3 linked regions of the Homo sapiens genome follow. The protein of the gene in region 1 purifies or fractionates together with the protein of each later gene. This does not show direct contact. Each region holds a gene or a part of one and is shown in the gene's direction. Other genes may lie near its edges.

Region 1 (7,335 bases):
TAAACTACTTCCCCACCCTACACTGCTGTGAGGCTTCAGTTAGTCTGAAACACACAAGTTTAAAGATAAGCAGAATAAGTTTGTGTGTATTCCTTTTTCAGTAAGAAGAAAAAAAGTTTCCCTTCTTTGTTGTTTTGTTGTAACTAATGACTTCTGAGTTATTATCCACAAAATTATGGGATATGTAGAATAGGTAGAAGATCCTATTACATCAATAAAAAATGCATTTAGATAGGGCAGGGGGAGGGGTGCAAGGTATTTATGTTTTACATAAAGTGGTACAATGTTAGCTCGAACTAGACTGTGAAAAAATAAAGATGTATATGAACAGTCCTTATGGCAACCACATTATTAATTCAAAGAGGTATAGCTAAGTAAATACCAATAGGTTAACTTAAAATGAAATTCATAACGATAGGAAGGAGGTAGAGTAACAAGAAAGGAAATTTTGAAAGTATTTCAAACTGAAAGATAATAAAAATACAACATACCAAAATTTGTAGGATGTAGCCCAAGCAGTGCTACAGGGAAAGTTACAGCTTTAAGTGTTTATTTTAGAAACTAACAAAGACGGCTGGGCACGGTGGCTCACGCCTGTAATCCCAGCACTTTGGGAGGCCGAGGTGGGTGGATCACCTGAAGTCAGGAGTTTGAGACCAAGCTGGCTAGCATGGTGAAACCCCACCTCTACTAAAAATGCAAAAATTAGCCAGGTGCGGTGGCATGCACCTGTAGTCCCAGCTACTCGGGAGGCTGAGGCAGGAGAATCGCTTGAACCTGGGAGGCAGAGGCTGCAGTGAGCCAAGATCGTGCCACTTCACTCCAGCCAGAGTGACTCTGTCTCCAAAAAGAAACTAACAAAGACTACAATCAGTGACCTAGGTTCTATTAGAAGAAGCTAGAGAAAGAAGAGCAAAGTAAATCCAAATTTAGTAGAAGCCAATGAAATGGGAAAAAGAGAAACTAAGAAAATATTCCAACAAATGTGATGAATGAAATGGACAAATTCCTTGAACAAGTGGATCTGGTACTACTTACAACTTAGGGTAAACTAATTTCAAATTCTACTTCTGGGGCCTTAAAAAAAAAAGAACCCAGAGCAGCAACAAAAACTCAGAAAATGTTATTTAAAAAGAAAAAGAATATTGTCTACAAAAATTATAAAGTGCCTAGGGATAAACTTAACAAAGATATAAGCTCTTTATGTTGAGAAATATAAAACTTTATTGAAAGATTTTTAAAAACTTAAATAGTTATATTCTTGAACAGGAAATGAGCTTGGTATTGTAAAGATAATAATTCTTCCCAAATTGATCTATAATCTCAATGCAATTATAACCAAAATTCCAAAAGGGTAACTAAATGTTACAGAGGATGCTATTATGGAAGAACAAAGGGCCAAGTATAGTTGACACACTCCTAAAGAACAAGATGTCAAAGACTGCTCTCAAAACTTTGATCATCTTGATGGTGGTTATGGTTTCACAGGTGTATGAATGTCAAATTGTACACTTTATATGCACATTATTGTGTGTCATTTAGACCTAGGTAAAGCTGTTTTAAAAACAAAAACAAAAAAAAGCCCGGCAAAACAAGCCTGGGCAACATAGTGAGACCTTGTTGCTACTAAAAATAAAAAATTAGCTGGGTGTGGTGGCACAAGCCATGGGCCCAGCTACTTGGGAGGCTGAGGCAGGAGGATTGCTTGAGGCCAGGAAGTTGAAGCTGCAGTGAGCAGTGATCACGCCACTACATTCCAGCCTGGGCAACAGAGCAAGACCTGGTCTCAGAAAATATATTAAGCTGGGTGTGGTGGCTCATGCCTGTAATCCCAACACTTTGGGAGGCCAGGGCAGGCAGATTGTTTGAGTTCAGGACTTTGAGACAAGTCTGGGCAACGTGGCAAAACCCTGGCTCTACAAAAAAATTTTAAAAATTAGCTGGGTGTGGTGATGTACACCTGTAGTCTCAGCTACTCAGGAGGCTGAGGTGGGAGGACTGCTTGCCCCTGAGAGGTCAGGGCTGCAGTGAGCTGTAATCATATCACTGCTCTCCAGCCAGGGCAACAGAGCAAGCCCCGTTTCAAAAAAAAAAAAAAAAAAGTTATTTAGCAATATACATACAGACATACAAATGGAAGAGTTAAAAAGCAAAGGAATGATTAACTCAACATGTAAAACGGTAATTACCGGGAGTGAGGGAAAGGGAAGGGTATGTGCCAGTGGGGAAGGGACGCATAGGGAGCTTGTCATGTTCTAGTATAGGTAGTATTCTATTTCTGAAACAGAATGCTGTATGTCTTACTATCATTCTTTTAACTACATGTGTATTTTATACAACCTTTTGCATATATGATAAGTTTCACAATTTTGAAAAAATGAGCGTTTGTAAAGAGGAACACAAAAGAACCAACCATTAGCTAAACTTATTATTTTGGGGGTACTCAAAACCTTTCAAACAGCACTTGATGACTACGATTAAGATCTTTCCTGCTGATTTAAAAATGGCAAAACTCTTCCTCTGTTTGAGACAGACGGGTTTTCAATTTATTTTTTTTTTTTTGGAGACAGGGTCTCACACTGTCACCCAGGCTGGAAGTACAGTGGTGCAATCTTGGCCTCTGCCTCCAGGGTTCAAGCGATCCTCCCACCTCAGCCTCCCTGGGACTACAGGTGCAAGGCACCACCTCTGGCTAATTTTTGTATTTTCTGTAGAGATGGGGTTTCACCATGTTGGCCAGGCTGGTATGGAACTCCTGGGCTCAGGTGATCTGTGCACCTCATCTTCCCAAAAGTGCTGGGATTAAAGACGTGAGCCACCGCACCCGGCCGGTTACCAATTTCAAACAAGAAAAGTAAAAACCAAACAGAAAAGCTATTGCTTACTACCCTAACTTGGTACATTTCTGTGCTTGTTAATAACTAATAATTAACTTGTCCTCTCACAACCACCTTGAGATGCAGGGGTACAGGGTAAATTAGTACTGAGATAGTACCTAGCACTAAAATAGAATTATCTTTCTTGCACACTTTTTCTACAGAGGATGATAGTTTTTCCCTTCAAAGCACTGGTAATAGTCTTATTTTCTTCCTTCCATTTCTGCTTACTTGGTTACTGTCTTTATCAAACTATTAAAATAGTAAATACGACCAGATGCGGTGGCTCACACCTATAAACCAAGCACTTTGGGAGGCCCAGACAGGAGATCGCTTGAGCTCAGTGGGGCCCGGCTGCAGTGAGCCGTGATGGCACCACTGCACTCCCGCCTAGGTGGCCGAGAGAGACCCTGTCTCAAACAAAATAAAAAATAAAAATAATAAAATAGTAAATATACTGCAATTGTCTCCACCTCACTTCACCTGACAACACTATTTTGCTGTAATGGCCATAGAATCTTGATCTGACCACCGCCCATAGTAAGCAGGGAACTCAGCCTTCCAACATTAATTAAGAGCCCAACAATTTTAGGTTTCAGTTAGAAAGGACAGCTGCGCTTCAGGCTTGGTTCTTGCCAACTACTCAGCTATTTTGGATGAGCTGCACATTTTGTCTGTAACTTCCTCCATAAGTTTTTAATCAAGAGATCTTCCAGGAATGTAGGGCCTGCTTCACCTTCCACAGCAGCTGCGCAAAACATGCAAAACATACACTTCGATTTGTGTTTTCTGTTAGCTTTAGCTACTTCCCTCAGCCCAGACTCCCTTCAGTCTTTTGTTTTGAATAACAACCTACTGTGAAGCTTCTTAAACACTAGTTTTATTTAAAGCTTGTATTATCCTTTTCCTTTTTTTTTTTTTTTTTTTTGAGACGGCATCTCGCTCTGTTGCCCAGGCTGCAGTGTAGTGGTGCGATCTCTGGCTCACTACAGCCTCCACCTCCCAGGCTCAAGTGAATCTTCCTCCTCAGCCTCCCGAGTAGCTGGGACCACAGGGGCAGGCCAACAAGCCTGGCCTATTTTTGATTTTTTGTAGAGACGAGGTCTTGCTATGTTGCCCAGGATAGTCTGGAACTCTATTATAATCTTTGTCTTAATCTCATGGAGACGCCCCCGTGGTCACTGACTGGAGGAAGGAAATACACATTTTAAAGGTTTTAAATTTCCTATAGAAGGGTCTAGAACGTACCGCGCTATAACGAACATAGTAGTAAGACCACCGCCACACTCCTGAGGAAACAAGGTCACGCCCCTCTGCGGGCCGCTTGATCGGGTCTTTAATTAATCCCGCCGCGGCCTTCCCGCCTACCCCCGAGCGCGCACTTCCGGTCGCGAGGGCGCTCGGGAGCGCGCCCCGCGAGCCTCCACCAACCAGCGGCTCCGCCTGGCCAGACAGAGTGCGCGCGCGCACGTTGTGCGCAGGTTCGAATCTCCGCCGCTTCGCGGTTGCTTCTCAACGTCCGGGCCGCATCTCGGCGGCGGCGAGGGCTGAGCGCGGGAGCTGCCTCCGAGCCGGAGCCCCAGCCCTAGGCCCTGCGCGAGCTGCCCCGCCCTACCCCCTCCAGCGTCCTGTCGCCTCCTCGCCCGACTTCGGCCTGTCCCTCTCTCACGCGCTCAGTCCTCGCTCTTCGCCCCCCGCAGCTATCGGCACTCGGTCTCCCGCGCCTGGCGGGCTCCGCCCGAGCCTCTGGGCCCATGGCCAAGCGGCGTGCGGCCGAGCCGGTGACGTTCCACGTGCCTTGGAAGCGGCTCCTGCTTTGCGACTTCGCTGAGCAGCCGCCGCCACCGCCTCTCTGGATCCGGCCGCCCGGGGTCGCGCATGCTGGGCAGCTCCTCGGCGTCCCAGAGCAGCACCGAAAGCGCAAAATCGACGCAGGGACCATGGCAGAGCCCTCGGCTTCGCCCAGCAAGCGCCGTGACAGCGGGGACAACAGCGCCCCGAGCGGCCAGGAGCGTGAGGACCACGGTCTGGAGACAGGCGATCCGCCGCTGCCGCCGCCGCCCGTACTGCCGGGGCCGGGGGAGGAGCTCCCGGGCGCCCGGCTCCCGGGGGGCGGTGGCGACGACGGGGCGGGGCGCGCAGGACCCCCGCGGGGAGACTGGGGGGTCGCATCGCGCCAGGTAGGGGCTGGGGGCGGGTGGGCTGAGGGGCGAAGGGGCTTGCCTTTTCCCCACACACACAAAACGCCCCGGTTCCCACTCATGACTTGTGTAGGTTAAGACGCCTGAGGGGGTTGAAAGAAGGGGTCACCGCTCCGGGAGAGGACGCCGACCGCCAGAAGCACACCCCGAGAGTCCGATGGGCAGAAAGCACTGGGCTGGGCGAGGGGGAAACAGACCGTGGTCGGGAGCGATAGAAGTGGCCTTGCGGCGTCAGCGCCGCGCTCCGTAAAAGGGAAACGGGACCGTGGGTCGTGGCGGGCTGTGAGCATGGCGAGAACGCAGACCGTCAGGGCATAGGTTCAGCCCAAAGACAAACGACAGATAAAGGTGTAGAGGGCCTTCCTGGGTTTAACGATGATTAGTCTAGAATTCGGGATAGAGTTCTTTTTCTAGAGGGAGACCAGTGTGGTAGCCATTGATTAATTGAACGTCCTACCGGCTGGTACAGCTTCTGGAGAAAAGGATGGACCACCGTACCTTGGTCAAAGCTTTGTTTTAACTCATAGTGTTAAATCTGATCCTAGGCAAAAGTATCATTGAAAATTAATTTGGGGGCGGGGCGTGGTGTCTCACGCCTGGAATCCCAGGACTTTGGGAGGCCACGGCGGGTGGATCACCTGAGGTCGGGAGTTCGAGACCAGCCTGGCCAATAGGGTGAAACTCTGTCTCTATTAAAACACAAAAACTAGCTGGGTGTGGTGGTGTATGCCCGTAATCACAGCTACTCGGGAGGCTGAGGCACAAGAATCACTTTAACCTGGGAGATGGCGGTTGCAGTGAGCTGAGATTGGGCCAGTGCACTCCAGCCTGGGCCACAGAGTGAGACGCTGTCTCAAAAAAAAAGAAAAGAAAAGAAAGAAAAAAGAAAATTAATTTGGGCCTTAAGGCGTATATGAGAATCATTGGCGGGTTTTTATTCAAGACATGAGCCTGCCTCATCTCTGCATGTAAGAATCCTGAGAAGATCTAGGTATGCCTCGGTTTGCCTAGATCTCTGCTGCCCGGCCGCTAGCCGGTAAGAACACTTGAAACGTGACTAGTCCAAATGGAAATGTGCTCTAAGTTTAAAATATACACGAAATTTCGTGGATTTAATAAATGAAGATAAAATAGCTCAATTTTATATTGATTACACATGAAATAACTTGGCTATATTGAAGAAAATATATTAAAATTAATACCAGAAGTTTCTTTTACTTTTTAAATACAGCTACTAGAAAATTTTAAATTATGTTTTTGGAGCATTATATATTTATTGGACAGCTTTGGTCTAGACTTAGGAATTCATACTACTTTTTCACAATCCTGAATGGCAGGGGACTTGGGAGATGAAGAACCAAGTACAGGTTTCTCAGAATTCACCAAATTCTCTTCAGCTGTCTGATAGCATCCTCCCAACGTTTTTCTATTTTCTCAAGTATCTTATGTCAGGGTTTTCAAATACCTTTCCAAAAAAATAAATGAAATTTCTTAGGCATGACTTGTTCATGTGAAAAATCCAATAAAATAACGAGAGTTTTATAGTTGGGAAAGACTTTTTTTTTTTTTTTCCTATGGTTGAAACATGAGCCTTATTTAAACTTTTTCTTCAGATTGCTCTCAGATATTCAAAATCAACTGAAAACAGATGGATAGTCTTCTAAACCATCCATCCATAATGGATATGGAGATTAGGGACTGTGTAGTTTGAAAACTTTTTGAAAGCTCTTCAGACCATTTTAGTACTCCACTCATGCATAGGCTTGTCTCCTACCAGAATACAGAATACACTGTCTATACTATGCCACACAGTGATAAGAGGGAAATATGGAAATGGCAGTAGGCAAAGCGTAAGAGTTCTCTAGTAGCCTGAAACGGTGATGCTTGCTTAGTCTTAGACTCAACTCTTTTCCCCCACAGCAGTAACTAGATCTGGCAGCTCTCTACTTCCTATAGTCGCTGCAAGCGCATGACAGGGAAAAAGGTTGGCTCCAGGGGTTCTTTCTTCACCAAGACTACCCTTGTTCTCTTTGTTGTTTTTTAAAAAAGGGTCTTGGGGTCTCGCTCCCATGCCCAGGCTGGAGTGCAGTGGCACCATCCCAGCTCACTGCAACCTTAGCTTCCTGAATAGTTGGGACTGCAGGTGCACACCACCACGCTGGACTAATTTTTTTTTTTTTGTGGAGATGGGGTTTTGCCATGTTACCCAGGCTGGGCTCAAGTGATCCTCCCGCCTCTGCCTACCAAATAGCTGGGAT
Region 2 (7,033 bases), on another chromosome or scaffold:
AGTGACAGGAGGAGGGCAGAGCAGATCCAAGGAAGCCTTCACAGAGGGTGCTGCTATGGGCGGAGGACAGGATCAGTGTGCTACTGAGGTAACCCAGGTAGAGCACCTGGTAGGTAGAAAGCACATCTGTGCTCACTGATGCACAAGAGAGCAGATCCCCAGGCCTGGGGCTAATGTCAGGCCAGTCTGAGTTGGGCCCTTTGCTTCCCTTCTCCATTTGGATCCCTCCCTGTTTTCCATTTTTTTTTTTTTTTTTAAGTTTTCATTTTCTTTTTTTTTTTTTCTTTGAGACAGAGTCTCGCTTTGTCGCCCAGGCTGGAGTGCAGTGGCACGATCTCAGCGCACTGCAGCCTCCACCTCCAGGGTTCAAGCGATTCTCCTGTCTCAGCCTCCCAAGTAGCTGGGATCACAGGCATGCACCACCATGCCTGGCTAATTTTTGTATTTTTAGTAGAGACGGGGTTTTGCAATGTTAGCCAGGCTGGTCTCAATCCTGACCTCAAGCGATTTGCCCACCTTGGCTTCCCAAAGTGCTGGGATTACAGGCCTGAGCCACCACGCCCGGCCAGGATCCCTTTGCTAAGTAAGAAATCATCAACTCCATTTTGGAGATGGGAAGACTGAGGTCCTGGTAGGTTAAACATCTGGTCTCTCATTGCCAGAGCTGGTTGGAGGTGGGGTCATTGTCTGGAACTCAGACCTACTGTTCATTTCTGCACCTCTGGACGGGAAGGGGGTGCTGTTGCCTGGAAATGCTGCCTGGGGGAGCCTGCTCAGCTCCCCCAGACCCAGCTGAGGTGTGACCTTTAGCCAGCTGGACAGGAGGACAGAGTGGGTTGCTCATCTTCCCTGCAGGTCTTGCCTGAGCATCCCACTGACTAGTGTGTGTGTTTGGTGGGGGGTACCCCAGCAGCCCCCAAAGAGGCCAGCTCTTCCCTTTCCCTGGCAGATGGATGGGAGGAGGCAGCTACTGAGGTGGATTCAGCTGGAGTAGGGAAGGGGATTTGCTGTGGAGTCTCGGGGAGTGAGATGGGTGGGGTGCTGTCAGCAGCTTGTCTGTCCCCTCACCCAAAACGCATGGCCTTGGTGCATGGAGAGAAACATGGACCGTTTTCACTTTTGGGGGCTCCCAATGAGAGGGGGGTACAGAGCACCTCACTTCAGTAGACACCCCACGTCTGAGGGAAGAGATGTTGCGCCATCCTGGGGGGGCTTCCAGAACAAGATGGGAGACACAAGAAGGCTTCAACAAAGCAATATCTTCCATCACAGGGAACTGGGAGAATAAAAGGCAACATCCAAACAGGCAGATATCCCTAGAGCCGAGGTCAGATGTCCCACAGCCCTTCCTCCCGTTTGTAGAAACTTCTAGCAGATCTCCAGCTCCTGCCTTTCCCTGTGGGCCTTGATTTGGCCGTGGTGAGAGAAGGACAGCTGCAGAGATCAGAGGCTCAGCTGGCCGTTCAGGTCATGCTGTTCCCTACTAGAGAACAGAAGGGTCCCAGGAGTCAGTCAGGCTGCACTGGATGGTGTGGGGGTGGGGCCGGGTCTGGGGAGACCTAAGTGGGCAGCTGGCCCCGGGGAGGCTAAGGTTGGCTCCCACGTGCAGGGCATCCCAAGCTCCTGCCAGACCCTGTTCCTGGCTTCAGTTCAAGCCTGGGGTGGGGATGAAGGATGGGGGAGGGGAGAGGGCGGAAGGGCTTCATTCATTCCCGCCTCCCCAGGGAGCAGACTGGGTGTGTCATGACTGTGCCTTGACTCAGGCCACACAGTGACCACCCACGCCTTGGGCTGGGACTGCTTGGGGAGGAGGGGGCATCCGGTGGCACAGTCAAACCAGGGGTGCCCAGAGGTCCCATTCTTCCAGGAGCTCATCACATACGCACACCCCAACCAAGCCCTCACCGTCAGTCTCTCCACATCATTCTTTTTCTTTTTCTTTTTTTGAGATGGAGTCTCGCTCACCTAGTCTGGAGTGAAATGGCATGATCTCAGCTCACTGCAACCTCTGCCCCCTGGGTTCAAGCAGTTCTCCTGCCTCAGTCTCCCGAGTAGCTGGGATTACAGGCGCCCACCATCATGCCCAGCTAATTTTTGTATTTTTAGTAGAGATGGGGTTTCGCCATGTTGGCCAGGCTGGTCTCGAGCTCCTGACCTCATGTGATCCACCCGCCTTGGCCTCCCAAAGTGCTAGGATTACAGGTGTGAGCCACCGCACACATCATTCTTCTCTTAAAAGTTTTTCTAAATTTTATTTTTTTGTACAGACAGGGTCTCACTGTGTTGCCCCGGCTGGTCTTGAACCCTCAGGCTCAAGTGATCATCCCCACCTTGGCCCCCCAAAGACCGGGATTACAGGTGTGAGCCACTGCACCTGGCTAATTCCTGTGGCCCAGTAGCATGACTATAGCTCACTGCAGCCTTCACCTCCTGGGCTCAAGCAATCCTCCTGCCTCAGCTTCCTGAGTAGCTGGGCCTAGAGGTGCGTGCCACCATGTCTGGCTAATTTTTTAATTTTTTGTAGAGACAGGGTCTCACTTTGTTGCACAGGTTGGTCTTGAACTCAGGGCCTCAAATAAGCCTCCTGCCTTGGTCTCCCTAAGTGTTGACATTACAGGTGTGAGCCACCCCACCCTCTGCATCATTCTTGCTCTCAGGAAGGCAGCTCCCCTTTATTCCTGACCCCCAGGGCAGCATCTACCAAGACACAGCTCCCCTTTAGGGGAGGCACCCTGTCGCCAGAACCCCCCCGCAGCTACCAAGGCAGGCACTGTGCCAAGCGCTTTACGGCATTGGCTCATTGAATCCTCATGAAAGTCTCTGGAGGGAGGTACTATCATCTGTATTATTCCCATTTTACAGATGAGAAAACTGAGGCACGGAGAGGCTAAATTCCCTGCCCAGCAATCTGTCTTTAGCACCCTCTCTGTTGTATCTCATTGATTTCTGCTGATCCTGGATCACGGGTTCATCTGGGGAAGTCATTGCTGGACTTTGGGCAGTAGGTGGGGAGGGCTGAGAGCTCTGGGTGCCAGGCCTTGGCCTTAGCCCAAGGCAGCTGGCTGGACCAGACAGAAAGCAGATGGGAGGGGCCTTGGTACTCGAAAATGAATCTTCCACATCCATGCCTTAAGGGTTTCTCTGGCCTGGCCTAACAGTGAGCTGGGAAAAGACCTCACCACGTGACTGCAGTTGGGTGCTTGTGCTGCAGAGGCCAGAGAGAAGGCACTGGAAGCGCTGGCTTTTGTCTGCAGCCAGGAGTCTGGCATCTTAGGATGTTGGGCTCTTGGACAGGGAAATGAAGACAAGAGCATGGGCATTTAGAATTCCAACTCATTCCCATTTCACCTAAAGGTTCTGTGACTTTGGGTCAGGTATTTAGCCTCTCTGTGCCTCGGTTTCCTCACCCGAAGAAGCAGTGATAAAAATATCACCTTCCTCGTAGAGTGTTGACCGTGAAATAAGATAATGAATGTAACATGCCTCATACAGCACACGGTATCTCACCGGGTTCAGTGGTGGTAGCTGTTCCTAAAAGTACTTTGTTTGTTTGTTTTGTTTTTTGTTTTTTGTTTTTGAGAGGGAGACTTGCTCTGTCACCCAGGCTAGAGTGCAGTGGCACCACAAAAGTACAAAAGTACCTTCCATGTTGCTGCTTTTTTTTTTGAGACAGAGTTTCACTCTGTCACCCGGGCTGGGGTGCAGTGGCACAATCTTGGCTCACTGCAACCTCTGCCTCCTGGTTTCAAGTGATTCTCCTGCCTTAGTCTCCTAAGTAGCTGGGATTATTATTATTATTATTATTATTATTTTTGAGATGGAGTTTCACTTTTGTTGCCCAGGCTAGAGTGCAATGGCACAATCTGGGCTCATTGCAACCTCTGCCTCCTGGGTCAAGCAATTCTCCTATCTCAGCCTCCTGAATAGCAGGGATTATAGGCGCCTGCCACCATGCCCAGCTAAATTTTTTTTGTATTTTTAGTAGAGACGGGGTTTCATCACATTGGTTAGGCTGGTCTCAAACTCCTGACCTCAGGTGATCCGCCCGCCTAGGCCTCTCAAAGTGCTAGGATAACAGGCGTGAGCCACCGCGCCCGGACTAGTAGCTGGGATTACATGCACCACCGTATAACTTGCAGTATGTAATATGCACCACTGCCTGGCTAATTTTTGTATTTTTAGTAGAGACGGGGTTTTGCCATGTTGGCCAGGTGGGACTTGAATTCCTGACCTCAGGTGATCTGTCCACCTTGGCCTCCCAAAGTGCTGGGATTACAGGTGTGTGAGCCACTGTGCCCGGCCTTTTTTTTTTTTTTTGAGACAGAGTTTCACCCTGTTGCCCAGGCTGGAGTACAGTGGCACAACCCTGGCTCACTGCAACCTCTGCCTCCTGGGTTCAAGCAATTCTCGTGCCTCAGCCTTCTGAGTAGCTGGGACTACAGGCTCTTGCCACCACGTCTAGCTAATTTTTGTATTTTTAGTAGAGACGGGGTTTCACCATGTTGGCCAGGCTGGTCTCAAATTTCTGATCTCAACTGATCTGCCTGCCTCAGCTTCCCCTCACTTCCCAAAGTGCTGGGATTACAGGTGTGAGCCACTGTGTCAGGCCTCACGTAGCTGCTTAAGGCCAGAATGTACAGTGTGTCTTGGTCATGCCCAGTCCCAGCCATGGTGAGGGAGAGGGAGACCAAGGAAATAAAGATGTGGCCCTGGCCTGGCAGAGGGAGAAGGAGCAGGTTTGTACCAATACGTCAACTACTGGGCAAACCAAGACTGCACGTGCAAAGGAGTGACCACATGGGATGAGATTAAGGAGGGCTTCCTGGAGGAGGTAGACTGGAGGCCTCTTTAGGGGAAGGAATGTGTGTTGCAGACAGGTCAAGGGAATGGGGTGCAGGCTGGGTTTACTGAGGCTGTTTCCTTGGGGATGTTAGGAGGTCATGCCAGGGTCTCTTGTTGGAGGGCTTGCCTTCAGTTCTCTTGTTGTGAACCGCCTCCCAGACCCCTGCATTGCAGCCCAGTGTCAGCGGACCAAGGGGATGGATTGGACCAGTGATTCCCAAATGTGGCTGACATCAGAAATCACCTGGGAAAGGTAGGAAAAATCCAGACTCCTGGGCCCACCTCAGACCCCTAGCCCTGGGGCCTAGGAGCCTGGATTCCACAACCTCTCTTGTGATGCTGATGTGTGGGCAGGTTTGGGACCCTCTGAACTGGACAATCACGTGGGATCCTCAACCAGAGAGGCAGGCTCTGCGTGGCCCAAGGAACCCGGGAGTTTTTTTTGTTTGTTTGGTTTTTTGTTTTTTGTTTTTGTTTTTGAGATGGAGACTTGCTCTGTCACCCAGGCTAGAGTGCAGTGGCATTATCTCGGCTCACTGCAATCTCTGCCCCCTGGGTTCAAGCAGTTCTCTGCCTCCACCTCCCGAGTAGCTGGGATTACAGGCTCCCGCCCACCACCATGCCTAGCTAATTTTTGTATTTTTAGTAAAGATGGGGTTTCACCATGTTGGCCAGGCTGGTCTTGAACTCCTGATCTCATGATCCACCTGCCTTGGCCTCCCAAAGTGCTAGGATTATAGGCATGAGCCACCGTGCCCGGCTTTTTTTTTCTTTCTTTTTTTTTTTTTGAGACAGAGTTTTGTTCTTGTCGCCCAGGCCGGACTGCAATGGCACAGTCTCTGCTCACTGCAGCCGCCACCTCCCGGGTTCAAGCGATTCTCTTGCCTGAGCCTCACGAGTAGTTGGGATTACAGGCATGTGCCACCACGCCCGGCTAATTTTTGTATTCTTAGTAGAGACAGGGTTTCACCATGTTGACCAGGCTGCTCTCAAACTCCTGACCTCAGGTGATCCACCTGCCTCAGCCTCTCAAAGTGCTGCGATTACAGGCGTGAGTCACCACGCCTGGCCACGGAACCTGGGGGTTAAGGTCCCAGTGTGGGCTCTCAGCAGCACTGTTTCCCTGGAAAACAGGGAATAGACAGGTTATAGGGAGGAAAGTGGGCATGTGGGGAGGGCACAGCTAGACAGCTCCCTTACATAGATAGAGAGACAGGGCCCTCTCAACAGATGGCCTGGCCACCGTCCCTGGCTGGGCAGTGCATGCATTTAGGTTAAGAGAGGAGACTCTGGGTTCAGGCTTGTGTCCAAGTCCTGGTGCTGCTGCTTCCTAGCTCCCTTGGGCACATTACTCGCCAGCTGTACCCTTGGTTTCCTAACTGGAAAGTCGGGGGTTAGTATGTGTGAAGTGCTTGGAACAGCATTGGCTGGGCACGGTGGCTCATGCCTGTAATCCAGCACTTTGGGAAGCTGAGGCAGGCAGATCACCTGAGGTCATGAGTTTGCGACCAGCCTGGCCAACATGGTGAAACCCCATCTCTACTAAAAATACAAAAAATTAGCTGGGCGTGGTGGCCGGCACCTGTAATCCCAACTATTTAGGAGGCTGAGGCATGAGAATCGCTTGAACCCAGGAGATAGAGGTTGTAGTGAGACAAGATCTAGCCACTGCACTCCAGCCTGGGTGACAGAGCGAGACTCTGTCTCAAAAAAAAAAAATTGTGTCTGGCACACAGAAAATGCTCGATGAAGGTAAGCCATTATTGTTGCTGTTATTGAGAAGCAGGAACCTGAGAAAGGGGCTTTGAGCCACGCCACCCCATCCCCTTCCCCCACCCCTGCTGCTGGAGTTCAAGAGCCTGTTCCATCAAGAATCCTGAATTGCGCATGCACGCGTACACACACACACACACACACACACACACACACTCACTCACATGCTCTCACGCTGGCTTTTTCCATCCATGAAATGTGACACTCTTCCTGTCCCCAGCAGCCCCCTGTTGCCAAGAGGGCCTCAGAGCTGGTGGCTCTGGTTCTCTTCACCTGGGGAGAGACTTCACCGTCCTGGCAGGAGCTCGGGGGAGCCCTTCCCCAAGTGTGAGCAGCATCCCTCGTTTCTGGATCCCAGGTTCAGGTAGTGAGGCCTCTCCTTCCCACACCTGCCTGGTGTATCCACCCCCTCCTCCCC
Region 3 (7,033 bases), on another chromosome or scaffold:
AGTTTTAATCCATTGCTTTTTGCCCTGTATTTTACACTTAGAATTTTGTTAATGGGTCTTGGTTATCCCAGTGACATTGTTGTTGAGGTGCATCCAGTGCTCAGGCAGGTCACAGCAACAATGGCGTGTGTGCGTGCATGCGTGTGTGTGTGTGATGTTCCCCAGCCCCATGAACAGCACAGTGGAATATCATCTCAGCCACTGATTGTCAGCTCAGTGCTGGCCTCTAGAAGCTAAGCCTTATGGAATCCTGCATGTGGATCCTCTTAGATGATTTCTCTTACCTGAGTACCCCTGGTGGACCTGGCTTAGCAATGGTTTGTATGATAGCTCAGAAAACAAGCATTAAGTCCATCAGCACATTATACAAATTCAATAGGCAGAGAGTCACTTGCTACTCTCAAAGGATCGGCTTCTGAAATGCAGAAGGTGGAAGTTCTCATGTGACCCCATCCTTGCTCTGTAGAATGCCACCCAGAGGATGTTTGAAATTGACTATAGCCGGGACTCCTTCCTCAAGGATGGCCAGCCATTTCGCTACATCTCAGGAAGCATTCACTACTCCCGTGTGCCCCGCTTCTACTGGAAGGACCGGCTGCTGAAGATGAAGATGGCTGGGCTGAACGCCATCCAGACGTAAGTAGGAGGGCATGTGGCTCTCACCTAGGCCTGAACACCCACTCTGGAGAGAAGATACAACTGTATTTCTCAGGGTGGCTATTTTATTGCTCAGAAATGGGAAATGGTCCAGTGTGATGTTCTGGGAGGGGCTTGTCATGAGCCGGACTGGCCCTTTTTCAAATAATTAACTACTTCTTCCAATCTTCAATTTTAATCATCAGAAATCATTAAATAAATAGCTTAAAAAGGAAAAGGATGGGGGAAGCAAACAGAAGTAACAATGATTGAGCACTTACCAGATACAGGGCACTTTATACTAATGATTCCATTTCCTCGAGATAGGTATTATTGTTCCTGTTTATAGCTGGTGAAACTGAAATTTGCCCAAGGCCATATCTTTGGTCAGAGGTTCAGCTAGTATTTGAAGGGAAGGGAAGGCATGCAGGCAGCTGTAGCACAGGTATGGCTGTAGTCATACAAAAAGCTAGGTTAACAGGAGAAAAGCATAACAGATATGTAAGTTTTATCTGACATGAGAGTCTTCAGAAAAGAAGACCCAAGGAAAACTTTTTACACTTAGATTCCATGAAAGGTTCTGACCTAATGGTGGTGGACTGAAGTGGGAAACCCTCAAGGCCTGCCTCAACAGATTCTTCTTGGCCTTTCTGGGTGGCATTCCTTCCTTCTGGGTATGGAGCAGGACCCCTCTGCAATGAGGGTCTAGAAGGGAGAAGGGAGAGGTGACCTTTCTAGGTTTTCTGGCTTGCTTTGGGAGAGAGGGGTTCTAATTTCTATGACCCACACTGGGGGAAGATGAATTCTGGTTTGACTTGCTTCAGGGGAGAAGGAGGGGTGGGCAACAGAAGAGCAGGAGAAGGCCAGAGAAAGAAGATTTGCTTCTAAGGCCTTCCGATCTCCTTTAGTTCAAAGTACTTAGCATGCCAAGGTGCCATACTTTGGGGTATTGTTTTCTGAGCCCCAATAACAGAATAAGCCTTGTGCTTAGGTAGATTTCTGAAACCCAGTTTGGCTTTGTGGTTCTGCTGCGGTAATTGTATAACTTCAGGGTGTAGAATTATCCCAATAGCTATCTCTCTGCATCTCTTTTGCTATTGCAAAGTAACTAACTAACAGGCAAGAAAGTTGGTGTGGCTGGCTGCTCTGGCTCTTGCAGTGCTGATGTGGATTGCTGATAACTTCTCAAAGATGAAGAGTGAGAAAACCCAGAGGCAGATTCCGAAGATAGATACTTAGGGAGAATGCGCTCATTATTCTGGTTCTAAGGCCACTGGCAGAGTGAACCCAAGTTCACCTGTTTATAATTCCGACAGTGAGTTCTGGAAGACCAAGACTGTTCCAGGGAACCCTGAAATCATGGGATCACACACACGCAAAATGACACAACCCAGGGTCTTCAAAGAGAGCTTTGTGATGGTAATGGATGGCTCCATATTTAACTTTGTATCCCATGCTGTCTGTAGGTAGACAGAGGAGCTGGTAGAAGGTTTTGTCATTTTACCTCCTGCCACATGATTCCTGACAAAATCTTTTGTCAGAGGATCTAGGGCTTGGAGTTTTTCCTACACGTACTAAAAATTATTTCTTCAAAAAATAAATATGTCTCTTACTACTTTTCAGCAAAATATTCTTATTTTTCCTAAGCCTCACATGGACATATATAATTTTTATTTTTATTTATTAAAACAATTTTTTAGAGCTGGGGTCTTGCTCTGTCACCTGGCTGGAATGTAGTGGCTCAATCATAGTTCACTGAAACCTTAAAGTGGGCTCAGGTGATCCTCCCACCTCAGCCTCCTGAGTAGTTGGGATTACAGGCACTGCTACCACACCAGCTAATTTTTTTGTTTTGCTTTGTTTTTAGAGATGAGGTCTCACTATGTTTCCCATGGTGGTCTTCAACTCCTGGACTCAAGCGATCCTACTGCTTTGGCCTCCCAGAGTGCAGGGATTACAGAAGAGAGCTACTGTGCCCAGCTATAATTTTTATGTAATAGGAATTAGTGCTGATATAACTCTGGAGTTTTCTGTTGTTGTTGTTGATTTTAAGAAGTGTCCCCATGAAGTCTGACTAGCTTGGGGAGCTGCTGTAAAAATTCATAACAAGGCCCCTCCCAAGAGGCTGCCAAGCGGGAAGGTCTATGTGTCCTGTGGTTTATGGTTCTACACCATATCTTTCTCTATAGACAGTTTAGAAATTTATGTAGGATACTGGATTTTTGAGCTCTTTCCCCTTCCACAGAGCACCTCAATTCAATTATTTATGCAAAATATAATTACAAAAAGCTAAAAACCTGACTTACAAACAAGTATATAATGGACATATGTCAGAAATTTATTTAACTGGATAAAGAAAATGTGGTACATATACACCATGGAATACTACAAAAATCACAAAAAAGAATGAGATCATGTCCTTTACAGCAAACTGGATGCAGCTGGAGGCTATTATCCTGAGCAAACACAGGGACAGAAAACCAAATACCACATGTTCTCACTTATAAGTGGTAGCTAAACATCGAGTACATATGGACACAAAGAAGGGAACAACAGACAATGGGGCCTACTTGAGGGTGGAGGGTGGGAGGAGGGTGAGTTCCCCTATCGTGTACTAGGCAGATTATCTGGGTGACTAAATAATCTGTACACCAAACCCCCATGACACGCAATTTACCTGTATAACAAACCTGCACATGTACCCCTGAACCTAAAATAAAAGTTTTTAAAAATTTATTTAACTTATTACTGAGGAAACTAGCTAGATGGTAAAGCTAATTCAAAGGAGAATTTGAGGAAGGGAGGTTTACGGTCAGTCAAGAAAGTCATGTTCAAATAAAGTTATCTTTAGAGATAAAACTGGTTAGTATCATAAAGGGCAATGAATGAAAAAGCAACCTTTAGAGTTGTCTTCTCTGTATGACAATCATTTGTTTCTCTCTCAGGCAATAATCTACAAATTAATCTGTAACTTCAAAGTTCTTCCCTTAATCAATAGTAAATAGTAAGTCAAACAAAATATCTCCCCTGGAGAATGAAGGAAGCCTCAGTGGGCCCATTGGACAGTCCTCCATTATAACATGGAAAGGAAATGCAGTCACCCTTTTGCCTTATATCCAAATTCTGGATAATTTTTCTTTTCTTTTCTTTCTTTATTTTGACACAGGGTCTCACTCTGTCATCCAGTTTGGAGTGCAGTGGCACAATCACAGCTCACTGCAGCTTCAACCTCCCTAGCTTAAGCAAACCTCCACCTCAAGCCTCCAGGGTAACTGGGACCACAGGCATACACCCTGGCTAATTTTTTTGTGTTTTTTGTAGAGACGGGGTTTCACCATGTTTTCCAGGCTGGTGTCAAACTCCTGGGCTCAAGCCATCCACCCACCGTGACTTCCCAGAGTGCTGGGATTAGAGGCCTGAGCCACTGTGCCCAGCCTTGGATAATTTTTCTTTCAAAGCGCCTTCTCCCTCTTATCCATGTGTTAGCAATAGTCCTAATGAGGCCCTTTCCCCACGCTTCTTTCTTCTTGACTCTGCCAAGTATCCAGGAAGGGGCTGTGTGTGTCTTGGCAGGTATGTGCCCTGGAACTTTCATGAGCCCTGGCCAGGACAGTACCAGTTTTCTGAGGACCATGATGTGGAATATTTTCTTCGGCTGGCTCATGAGCTGGGACTGCTGGTTATCCTGAGGCCCGGGCCCTACATCTGTGCAGAGTGGGAAATGGTGAGTGTGGCTAGACTGGGCTCTACCTGGTGTGTGTGAGCTGGCAGGCAGCAGCTCTGGGGCAAAGGGAATTAAAGCAGACCTGCATTCCAGAGAGCATGGGGCCTGGGACTGTACCCAGCACAGGTGTCTTTTACCTTGACAAGGTGCCCAGGCAGAGAAACAGGCCAGGGTCAGGGCATGGGCTCTCCTCTTGGTGGTCACTCACATACCTCAGCTTGCTCATCTGTAAGAAGCAGTTAATGGTGTCTTCTCTATCTACGTCACAGGGTATTTGTGAAATTAAATTGAAAAATCTTTATGAAAAGGGCTTTGGTCCTTAAAACATTGCATTCATGCAGAGTGATCTTAATTGTCCTACATTCCAATTTCTAATTTCTCTGCAAGTTATAAACCAAAAAGCCCAGCTCAAATACCCCTTGTCCCTTGAAGCTTTTATTCTTTTCCATAACTACTAATAGTAATTTCTATCTCCTCTGAGCACCCTTCACGGAACAGACATTATAATGGCTTGTTTTCCCTGAACTAGGGAGGATTACCTGCTTGGCTGCTAGAGAAAGAGTCTATTCTTCTCCGCTCCTCCGACCCAGGTAGGTTGTTACAGATGTCTTGAGAAGATTTATAAAAGCTTCAGCCTAGGTGCGGTGGCTCACGCCTGTAATCCTGACACTTTGGGAGGCTGAGGCGGGTGGATTACCTGAGGTTGGGAGTTCGAGACCAGGCTGGCCAAAATGGCAAAACCTCGCCCCTACTAAAAATACAAAAAATTAGCTGGGCATGGTGGTGGGCGCCTGTAATCCCAGCTACTCAGGAGGCTGAGGCAGAAGGATTGCTTGAACCCTGGAGGCGGAAGTTGCAGTGAACCGAGATCGTATCAATGCACTATAGCCTGGGTGACAAAGCGTGACTCTGTCTCAAAACAAACAAACAAACAAAAAAGCTTCAACAATTTATATCAAAAGGGGGAGGTATTTTGAAGGCTGGGGTACCTCTGCACAAATACTTTTGAAAGTTTAGTGAAAGTCTGAGTGTTTATCACTGACCAGTGCATAGCAACAAACTAAACCTCTAGGAAATTAGGCTTTGAACTACGTAACCAGATCTTACTGATAAACTGGTAATTCTTTGAATTGGTATTGAACCCTGTTTGCGGTTGACCAACTGACTTCAGTGCTTTCTCTTCCTATTTACTTAGCATATTCCACAGCCAATGATAGCACCTCGCTAATCAAAATGACAAGTCAGGCATGGTGACTCACACTTGTAATCTCAGCACTTTGGGAGGCCAAAGTGGAGGGATTGCTTGAGCCCAGGAGTTTGATACCAGCCTAGGTAACATAGCGAGACCCTATCTCTATAAAAATTAGCCAGGTGTGCTGGCACATGCCTGTAGTCCGGGAGGCTGAGGTGGGAGGATTGCTTGAGCCTGGGAGGTTGAGACTGCAGTGAGCCATGATTGTACCACTGCACTCCATCCTGGGCAACAGAGAGGGACTTTGTCTCAAAAAAAGAAATAAGGTCGGGCGTAGTGGCTCATGCCTGTAATCCCAGCACTTTGGGAGGCCGAGGTGGGTGGATCACCTGAGGTCAGGAGTTCGAGACCAGCCTGACCAACATGAGGAAACCCTGTCTCTACTAAAAAATACAAAATTAGCTGGGTGTGGTGGTGCATGCCTGTAATCCCAGCTACTCGGGAGGCTGAGGCAGGAGAATTGCTTGAAGCTGGGAGGCAGAGGTTGCAGTGAGCCCAGATTGCGCCATTGCATTCCTGCCTGGGCAACAAGAGCGAAACTCTGTCTCAAAAAAAAAAAAAAAAAGAAATAAAAACAAAATGACAGTTTCTGGGATGGTGTCATTGGATTGCTTGGTAGCTGCAATGCCTTCTATATTCTGGCCACTTTTATAGAGCAATGTGTAAATGATAGTTTTTTTCTTTGTCTTACTCCAGTACCTTCATGTTTTGCACGCTTAGCATATTATTGGTGTTTTCACTGTGGTAACTCATTTAATCTTTATGCCAACTTTATGTGGCATGTACATTTATTATTCCTATTTGACAATATAAATATAGAATTTATTAGAACTTCATTTTATACGGAAAAAAAGCCTTCCTGTGACTGAGAAGAGGATACACTGTTCAGTCACTCTTTTCTTCATTCAGCAAACATTGCTTGGATATGTTCTATGCTCCAGGCTTTGTGTCCTGTGGCAAGGATGGTCTTAGTCTGTTTTCTGTTGCTTGTAACAGAATACCTGAAACTGAGTAATTTATAAAGAAAAGCATTTATTTCCTACAGTTATGGAGGCCAAGAAGTTCAAGGTGGAGGGGCTATATCTGGTGAGGGCCTTCTTGCTGGTGGGGACTCTGCAGAGTCCTGAGGGGGCACAGGGCATCACATGGTGAGGGGGCTGAGTGTCCTAGCTCAGATCTCTCTCCCTCTTCTTATAAAGCCACCAGTCCCATTCCCATGATGACCCATGAATCCATTAACCTATTAATCTATTAATCCATGAGTGGATTGATCTACTTATGAGGGCTGAGCCCTCATGACTCAACACCTCTTAAAGGCCCCACCTCTCAATACTACCACATTGGGGATTCGATTTCAACATGAGTTTCAGAGGGACAAACATTCCAACCATAGCAGATGGATACAGGCACACTGGTCCTCG

What was found.
Region 2: the proteins of C9orf40 (region 1) and PLOD1 purify together in Homo sapiens (affinity purification with mass spectrometry; 2 studies listed by BioGRID and IntAct, with this or other methods). This does not show direct contact.
Region 3: the proteins of C9orf40 (region 1) and GLB1 purify together in Homo sapiens (co-immunoprecipitation; 2 studies listed by BioGRID and IntAct, with this or other methods). This does not show direct contact.

Annotation. Positions count from the first base shown.
Region 1 is NC_000009.12:74,949,907-74,957,241, reverse strand, and holds the start of C9orf40 (uncharacterized protein C9orf40), read left to right. Parts: upstream 1-4,329; 5' UTR 4,330-4,630; coding exon 4,631-5,056; intron 5,057-7,335.
Region 2 is NC_000001.11:11,937,684-11,944,716, forward strand, and holds part of PLOD1 (procollagen-lysine,2-oxoglutarate 5-dioxygenase 1 isoform 2 precursor), read left to right. Parts: intron 1-6,838; coding exon of another isoform or gene 6,839-6,979; intron 6,980-7,033. UniProt on the Homo sapiens protein: Part of a complex composed of PLOD1, P3H3 and P3H4 that catalyzes hydroxylation of lysine residues in collagen alpha chains and is required for normal assembly and cross-linkling of collagen fibrils.
Region 3 is NC_000003.12:33,066,147-33,073,179, reverse strand, and holds part of GLB1 (beta-galactosidase isoform a preproprotein), read left to right. Parts: intron 1-466; coding exon 467-636; intron 637-4,209; coding exon 4,210-4,360; intron 4,361-4,889; coding exon 4,890-4,950; intron 4,951-7,033.